Homo sapiens: one gene and its partner. The protein of the gene in region 1 interacts with the protein of each later gene in a pairwise test. Each region holds a gene or a part of one and is shown on either strand. Other genes may lie near its edges. The genes, in order: CFAP20 and TFCP2L1.

The links.
Region 2: the proteins of CFAP20 (region 1) and TFCP2L1 interact in a two-hybrid assay, tested with the Homo sapiens proteins (one large-scale study listed by BioGRID and IntAct).

The regions. Positions count from the first base shown.
Region 1 is NC_000016.10:58,122,882-58,126,381, reverse strand, and holds part of CFAP20 (cilia- and flagella-associated protein 20), read left to right. Parts: intron 1-3,500. UniProt on the Homo sapiens protein: Cilium- and flagellum-specific protein that plays a role in axonemal structure organization and motility. Microtubule inner protein (MIP) part of the dynein-decorated doublet microtubules (DMTs) in cilia axoneme, which is required for motile cilia beating.
Region 2 is NC_000002.12:121,282,134-121,286,715, reverse strand, and holds the start of TFCP2L1 (transcription factor CP2-like protein 1), read left to right. Parts: upstream 1-1,513; 5' UTR 1,514-1,606; coding exon 1,607-1,668; intron 1,669-3,071; exon of another isoform or gene 3,072-3,821; intron 3,822-4,582. UniProt on the Homo sapiens protein: Transcription factor that facilitates establishment and maintenance of pluripotency in embryonic stem cells (ESCs).

The DNA of each region.
Region 1 (3,500 bases):
TGGCTTGTTCGTTAGTGTTTGTCACACCGGCAATTTATTTGACTCTCTGAAGCTCACAGCCCCTCCCCTCCATCTCATCCTTCCAATCTCAACTTAAACATTCTTTTCATTGAGAACTTGAGTTAAGCCTCATGGGTGTGCCTGTGGCTGGCAGTTTTCTATTGTAGATCGTCCACTGGACTGCAGGTTCCTTAAGCAGAAGAACAGTACCTTACCGAAAAACCTCAATGCTAGGGCGTGGTCAGACACCTTGGATTTGCATCCTGGCTGTGCTGTGTTCCAGTTGTGTGATCTTAGCTATGTCCTTAACCATTCAGTTTTCTCGTCTATTTCTCACGGTTATGAAGATTCAATGAAGCTGTATATAAAGTCCTTAGCAACAGAGTTACAGTATATGTAGTCATGCACCACATGATGGCGTTTCAGTCAACGACAGACCTTACACATGACAGTGGTGCCATAAGATTATCATGGAGCTGAAAAATTCCTGTCGCTTAGTGACATAATAGTTGTTCGTTAAGTCAAATGCATTACTCGTGTTTGTGAGTAGGTGTAAACCAACCTACTGCACTGCCAGTCATGTAAAAGTATAGCATATACAATGATGTTCAGTGCCTAACACTTGATGATAAATGACTATGTTACTGGCTTATGTATTTACTATACTCTTTATCATTATTTTATTGTATTTTATTTTTCTGAGACAAGGTCTTGCTGTTGCCCAGGCTGGAATGCAGTAGTGCAATCAGGGCTCACTGCAGTCTCCATCTCCTGGGCTCAAGCAATCCTCCCACCTCAACCTCCCAAGTAGCTGGGACTACAGGCCCTCACCACCACACCTCACTAATTTTTGTATTTTTGTAGAGACGGGGTTTCTCCATGTTGCCCAGGCTGGTCTTGAATTCCTATGCTCAAGCAGTCCTCCTGCCTCAGCCTCCCAAAGTGCTAGAATTACAAGCATGAGTTCCCGTGCCTGGCCTTATCATAATTTTAGAATGTACTCCTACTTAACAACAAGAACAAAAAGTTAACTGTAAAATAACCTTAGGCAGGTCCTTCAGGAGATATTTCAGAAGAAGGCAGTGTTGTCATAGGAGATGACAGCGCCATGTGCGTTATTGCTCTTGCAGACCTTCCAGTGGGACAGCATGTGGAGGTGGAGACTGTGATTGATGTTAATGATCCTGACCCTGTGCGGGCCTGGGCTCATGTGTGTGTTTGTGTCTTAGTTTTTAACAAAAAAGTTTAAAAAGTTAAAAAAAGAAATAGGAAAAACCTTATGGAATAAAGATATATAGAAAGAAAATATTTTTGTGCAGTTGAACATTGTGTTTTAAGCTAAGTGTTATTACAAAATAGTCTAAAAGTTTTTAAAATTTTTAAAGTTTATAAAGTAAAAAAGTTCCAGTAAGCCAAGGTTAATTTATTATTGATGAAAGAAAAATATTTTTAATAAATTTAGTGTAGTCTGGCCAGGCACAGTGGCTCATGCCTGTAATCCCAGCACTAACTAAATAACTAAAGCACAGTGGCTCATGCCTGTAATCCCAGCACTAACTAAATAACTAAATAAAATAAATGTATTGTAGCATAAGTGTATTGTGTTTACAAAGTGTTCAGTAATGTCCTAGGCCTTCACATTCACTCACCACTCACTCACTGACTCAACCCAGAGCAACTTCCAGTCCTGCATGCTCCACTCATGGCCAGTGCCCTATCCAGTTGTGTCACTTTTTATCGTTTATACAGTACTGTACCTTTTCTATGTTTAGACACACAAATACGTACCATTATGTTACAGTTGCCTACAGTATTCAGTACAGTAGTATGCTGTACAGATTGTAGCCTAGGGGCAATAGGCTATACCATATGGCCCGGGTGTGTAGGATGTTGTACTGTCTAAGTCTGTGTAAGTACACTCTGATATTCACACAGCCATGGAACTGCCTAATGAGGCATTTCTCAGAACGTAATCCCATCCTTAAGCAATGCATGACTGTAGTTAGTACTTTATAAGTAATGACATACAGAATTAAATATGGCAGGGACTGAGGAATTTGCTCAAAACTAAAATAAGATGTTTGAACTTAGCCCACCATCCAGATTTCTAGGAATAGGAAGTACTGTAAAACCAGACTCCTGAAATGAGAAGAATTTAGTTGTTGCACCGTGGCTCGCCCAGCCCTAAGCCCTTAATGTGGCTCTAAGGCCACATAACCCATGCTCTGGCACCTGCTTCACTTGTTCTCCAGGCGGGACTCACTTCACCCGGTTCCCCCTCTTAGTAGTAGCCTCCTACTGAATTGAAGGAAGTCCTGTTCTCTCACCTTCAAGCTTTTGCACTTCCTGGTCCTTCTGCTGGGCGCTGCCCCTCACCACCCCACAAGCCTCACTCCCATCTTTTCATTAGGCTCCAGTCACAGTTCAAAGGCCTTTCTCAGAGTGACCTTCCTTAACTCTTCAGGGTAAGTTAATTTACTTCTTTCTTATCACACTTGACATTATTAGCTTCTTAAGGTCTGTATTCCTGGCTATACAGTTTCCTGATAGAAGCTTTTGTAAGTTTCTAAACCAACAGCTTAGAAGAAATTAGGGGTTTCTTTAATGTTACCTTGACATCTGGGACCAGCAAATCTTATATTTATTAAAAGACTCTTACGTTTAATGTAAACATTACTTCTGGTTGTAAGGAAAATACCAGGAGGTTCTGTTCCCACTTATACTTGTGTAAAACATGCTGTAATTTTCAGTCTTTTTTTTTTTTTTTTTTTTTTTTTTTTTTTTTTGAGACAGAGTCTTGCTCTGTCCCCCAGGCTGGAGTGCAGTGGCACGATCTCGGCTCACTGCAGGCTCCACCACCTGGGTTCACGCCATTCTCCTGCCTCAGCCTCCGGAGTAGCTGGGACTACAGGCGCCCGCCACCACGCCCAGCTAATTTTTTGCATTTTTAGTAAAGATAGGTTTTCACCGTGTTAGCCAGGATGGTCTCGATCTCCTGACCTCGTGATCCGCCTGCCTTGGCCTCCCAAAGTGTTGGGATTACAGGCGTGAGCCACTGCGCCCAGCCAATTTTCGGTCTTAATGGTAGTAATCCTGGCTGGGCGCAGTGGCTCACGCCTGTAATCCTAGCACTTTGGGAGGCCAAGGCGAGCTGAGGTCAGGAGTTCAAGACCAGCCTGACCAACATGAAGAAATCCCGTCTCTACTAAAAATACAAAAGTTAGCCGGGCATGGTGGCACATGCCTGTAATCCCAGCTACTCGGGAGGCTGAGGCAGGAGAATCACTTGAACCCGGGAGGTGGAGGTTGCGGTGAGCCGAGATGGTGCCATTGCACTCCAGCCTGGGCAACAAAAGCAAAACTTTGTCTCAAAAAAAACAAGATAGTATCCTAAAAGTACATGAGATGAGATTGCATTAATTCATGAAAACGCCTTTGTCTGTCTTTCCTGTCACCCTGTCTTTCTCTCAGCTGCTGCTGTTTCTCCCCTACTCCAAGAC
Region 2 (4,582 bases), on another chromosome or scaffold:
GAAGTGGTTTGCCAGTTGTGACCTATGGCTGGAGGGAGGAGGGCAGGAACAGCAGAGTGAGGGAGGGTTTTACCCACATCCATGCGTGGGGGAGTGGGGAGTTCTGGACCAGGTCCCCAAGGGATGTCATTTGACTGGATTAATACTCAGGGACAGAATCCCCATCTCCTCTGTGCCAGGTGCTGTGCCATGTACTGGAGAACCGGATAGCACCTGGATAGGGGTCAGGGCTCCAGGGAACTCCACTCCCTCCTAATGGCCCTCCCCTCCACCCCATGACCCACTGTCTACACTGCTGCCAGACTGATCTTTCCAAAAGGCAAATCATACATGTGACTCCTCTGCTTAAAACACAGAATAAAATCCTAGCTCCTTGTCCTGGCCTGCCAGGCCCTCTGATCTTCCCCGCCCTCCTCACCTCATCTCCTAAGCTCTCCTCAAGACCAGCCATGCCAAGTAGGTCTTCCTCAAGGCTTTGGCAGTCACTGTTGCCAAGGGGGTAGGGAACTATGCCTGGAACTATTTTTCCCTAGGTGATGTTCACAGAGATGCTTCCTTTGCATCCATCAGGTCTCAGCTCAATGTCACCTCCTCCAGGAAGGCTTCTCTGATTACTCTTTTGGTGCATTCCTTTTTTCTTTTTTTATGTTTACTCAACAAACATTTATCTTAACTATGTCCCATGCACTGTTCTAGGCAGTGCAGGTAACGGGGTGTTAAGCGAGCCAGGCCCTGTCCTCTTGGAGCTTACAGTCTAATGGGAAAGACAATCAGTACACAAGTAAAAATAAAAAATAAAAAAATGTCGGCCTGACTCGGGGGCTCACGCCTGTAATGCCAGCACTTTGGGAGGCCAAGGTGGGCGGATCACCTGAGGTCAGGAGTTCGAGACCAGCCTGGCCAACATGGCGAAACCCCGTCTCTACTAACAATAAAAAAATCAGTCAGGCGTGATGGGGGGCGCTTGTAATCCCAGCTACTCAGGAGGCTGAGGTAGGAGAATTGCTTGAACCTGGGAGGAGAGGTTGCAGTGAGCCCCGAGATCGCGCCACTGCACTCCAGCCTGGGTGGCAGAGCGAGACCCCGTCTCAAAAAAAAAAAAACCAACAAAAAAACCCCCATGATTTCAGAGCGTCTGAAGTGCTATGAAAAAACAAGAGCGAGGAAAGGCGACAGAGAGGGCCTAGGCTGGAAATCTCGGAGCCGCTCTGGAGACCGGCCCTGGGCGTAGAGTGGGGAGCAGAGGCCAGAGGGGCCGTGTGGAGCGGGTTGGGGGCGGCAAGGGTCACCTGAGCCCCACATCGGAGTTTGGGGAGAGCACCCGGCCGGCCCTAGAGCCCTCTGGTCTGGCCGCCCCGGAGGCGCGCTCGCTCGCCGGAAAGGCACGCGCGGGAGTCAGCCAGGTGCGGCTGCCGCGGGGAGCCGCCCTCCGGGCCGCGCTTCCTGGGGGGCGGGTCTCACCGCTGTCCCGCCCCTGGGCCGCCGATAAATGCGCCGAGCCGGCCGGCACCGCGGGTTCGGAGCGCGAAGCCGCCGCTGGGTCCTCGGCGCGCCCCGCGTCTGCGCTTGCTGCCGCGCCCCGGTCGGCGCGCTGGGAGTTCCAGCCATGCTCTTCTGGCACACGCAGCCCGAGCACTACAACCAGCACAACTCCGGCAGCTACCTGCGGTAAGGGCCGCGCGCGGTCCCCGCGGGTCTCGGGCCGGGCCGGCGGGCCGGGCGCCGTTGGACGTCCAGGGGCGGAGAGGGGGCGCCCCTGCTGGGCCCTGGCCTCCCCGCTGTCCGCCCTCTGGGGACTGAGAGACCCGCCCAGCGTCCCGCCTAGGGACTGACAGATGGACGCCGGCGGGACCCGACGTGCGGAGTTGGGGGCCCGCTGGGGAGGCGAGCGCGCAGAGCCCTATGTCTGCGAGGGCTCCTCCCAGGCGGCAGAGAGGGTGCAGGGCGCGCACCTGCCGGCCCGCCGCCTCCCCTGGCCCGTCCGCCCCCTGCGGCCCTCCTCTCCCCCGCGTATCGGAGAAGCAGAGGAAACTTCCTGCCAGCAGCCTGGTGCCCGGCCCGGGGAAGTTCGTCCCCTGCTCTTTGCCCGTCTCCGCCGGGGCCCCTCTCCCAGCCTCGCGCCCTCTGCAGTGCCCTTCCTTGGACGAGGGGCGGGCGGCGGGCTCGGAGGGGCAGGCCGCCCCACTTCCCGCGATGGTCTTGCGCGTGTTCGCCCGAGGCCCGCGTGGTTATTGCCCTTGATGGAAATCTTTCTTCTGCTGGAGGGATTTGAGTAGTGCCCTTCAGAGGGGAAAGTAAGTCCTGCGTGTTTTGCACAGTTCCCCACAGGCCCCTCTTAGCAGTAGGACCCCGTGTGCTCTCGCTCCCGGAGGATTGTTTTTCCCTGTTCTGCTGCTGGCCGGGACTAATGGGCAGTCATTTCACTTTGTGAACTCGCCTGAACCAGCTTTAGCCTGTCCTTATTTCCATCTTAGTCACAGTTTATGAAATGTGCCTAATTTAACCCAAAGGGCATTTGATATGGGCTCAAGGAAAATGAATGATGAGGCCGAAGGAGTCACAGGCATTGACAGCCCCCATACTAGAGCTACCTTTAAGTGCTAGTTTTGGCCCCAAGAAGTTCCCACTTAGATCTTAAAACGTTATTTGTAATTCCTGGCTGCTGGTAGGTATTTGTCCTCCCTGAAGACATCCCCTTTTCCTGGAGGCGGGGGAATGATTGGGTTTAGTGGATGTATCTGCTGTTTTTATTCATGGGCCAAAGTAGTCGGAGATGGCAAAGGTCTAGAGCCTTAAAGGCTGACAGCCACCCGGCAGACCACGGTGATGTCACCAGAGGGAAGCCCAGGAGGAGATGTTAATCACCCAGAGATTAAGTGTCCATTCACTTGCAAGAAATGCTACAATGGAATACATTTTTACTGTACTGAAGTTTTAGTTGTAGCTTTGGCTAAGTTTTAGTTTGCTGCCATTAAGTATGTTGCCATATCTTAACAATGAGTTTGAAGGTGACCCTGAGTTGAAGGTGAGTGTACTTGAAACTTCCTAGATACCTACAATGTCCTCACCCCGTTAGGGAACAATTCTCCCTTGCCTGGGAGGTACAGTTCTGACATCTGCTACCGAGATGGAAGTTTGTCTGGAGTAGCTCAGGTACCTTTTAGGATTTGGTGAAAGGAGGAGGGTGAGCGTTGGGAGTGGGTGGTGCTGTAAAGCCATATTGGCTTCTGGGGTCATCGGGGGACCATGGATAAAGAAGTCCTTGCCCTTTTTTATTTCACTTCTTGGAAGCTGGGAGTTTTGCCCTCAGTGAGGGCCAAGGTGGCGGTTTGTGCATATGCCCCTGGTCCCCTGACTCTAGAGGGAGGGTCTGGTCCTTTTCCTTGCGTTTTTTGTATTTTATTTTTGGTCGTCTCCTCACTTGGCAGAACTTCTGCAAGCTGTCTGACCTCACCAGGGTAGAGGCCTTTACTCCCTTCCCCCTTTCTGTTTGATGTTCTCGTGACTTTTATTCCTTGGCAAATAAAGATGCCAGGCTTGAAACAAGTTACTGTTGAGGGATGGTTCTTAACTTCCTCTGCCCACCCGCCCCTGTTTAAAAAATTTAAAGGCAGCAGTCCGTGGATTATTAACTTGACATGGTCTGGGCAAACATGAAATTATGCAATCCTCAGTGTTCCTAGAGAACCACCCGGGCTGGGAGTGTGCCCTGCTCTGACAAAAGGAAGACGCCCTGTGGGGGAAAGTCGAGACGGCCTTGCACCCTTATTTTTCGGCAGTGGATGGTGACGGGGGAGGCCCACACAGGGCAGGTTTTCCAGGTGTGTGCTCAATGCCAGGCTTTTTCTTCTCAAAATTGATGAGATGTTGATGGGGTGTGTGCCGGGTTTGTGTTGTAGAGACGCTTGTTTATGATGTGCGAGGAACAGATTGTACCAGTGACTCTGTTTATACAGACAAGTGGGGTCAGCTAATTGGATTCCTAGTCAGGGACCCACGAAGGGAAGAGGGTTATCAAGATAAGAGCACTGGCACTTATTTGGCACTTGTTTATGTGCTGCTCATAATTTAGAGACCTTACACAAGCCTTGCCTGCCTGTAGGTCATTCATGTTCTCAAGGAATTCTTTGTCCCTTGTAAGGGCATTTTTAAAATGCTGGGTTTTTTGTTTCTTTCTTTTTCCTTTTTTTTTTTTTTAGAGATGGTGGGGTCTCACTATGGTGCCCAGGCTGATCTCAAACCCCTGGCTTCAAGCAGTCTTCTCACCTCAGCCTCCCAAAGTACTGGGATTTCAGGCATGAGCCACTGTTCCTGGCTTAAAAAATACGTCCAGAAACAAGTTCCTCCCTAAGTCGCAGGATGATGACTTCATTTTTTTTTTTTTTTTTTTTTTTTTAATGTGGAGAGTTTTGTTAAGAGGTGGAGGAAAAGAAACTTGGAGCAAGGATTTCAAGATTTCCCACTTGGATAAGAAAATAGACTGGGCTGGGCGCGGTGGCTCACACCTGTAATCCCAGCACTTTGGGAGGCCGAGGAGGGTGGATCACCTGAGGTCAGGAGTTAGTGACCAGCCTGACCAACA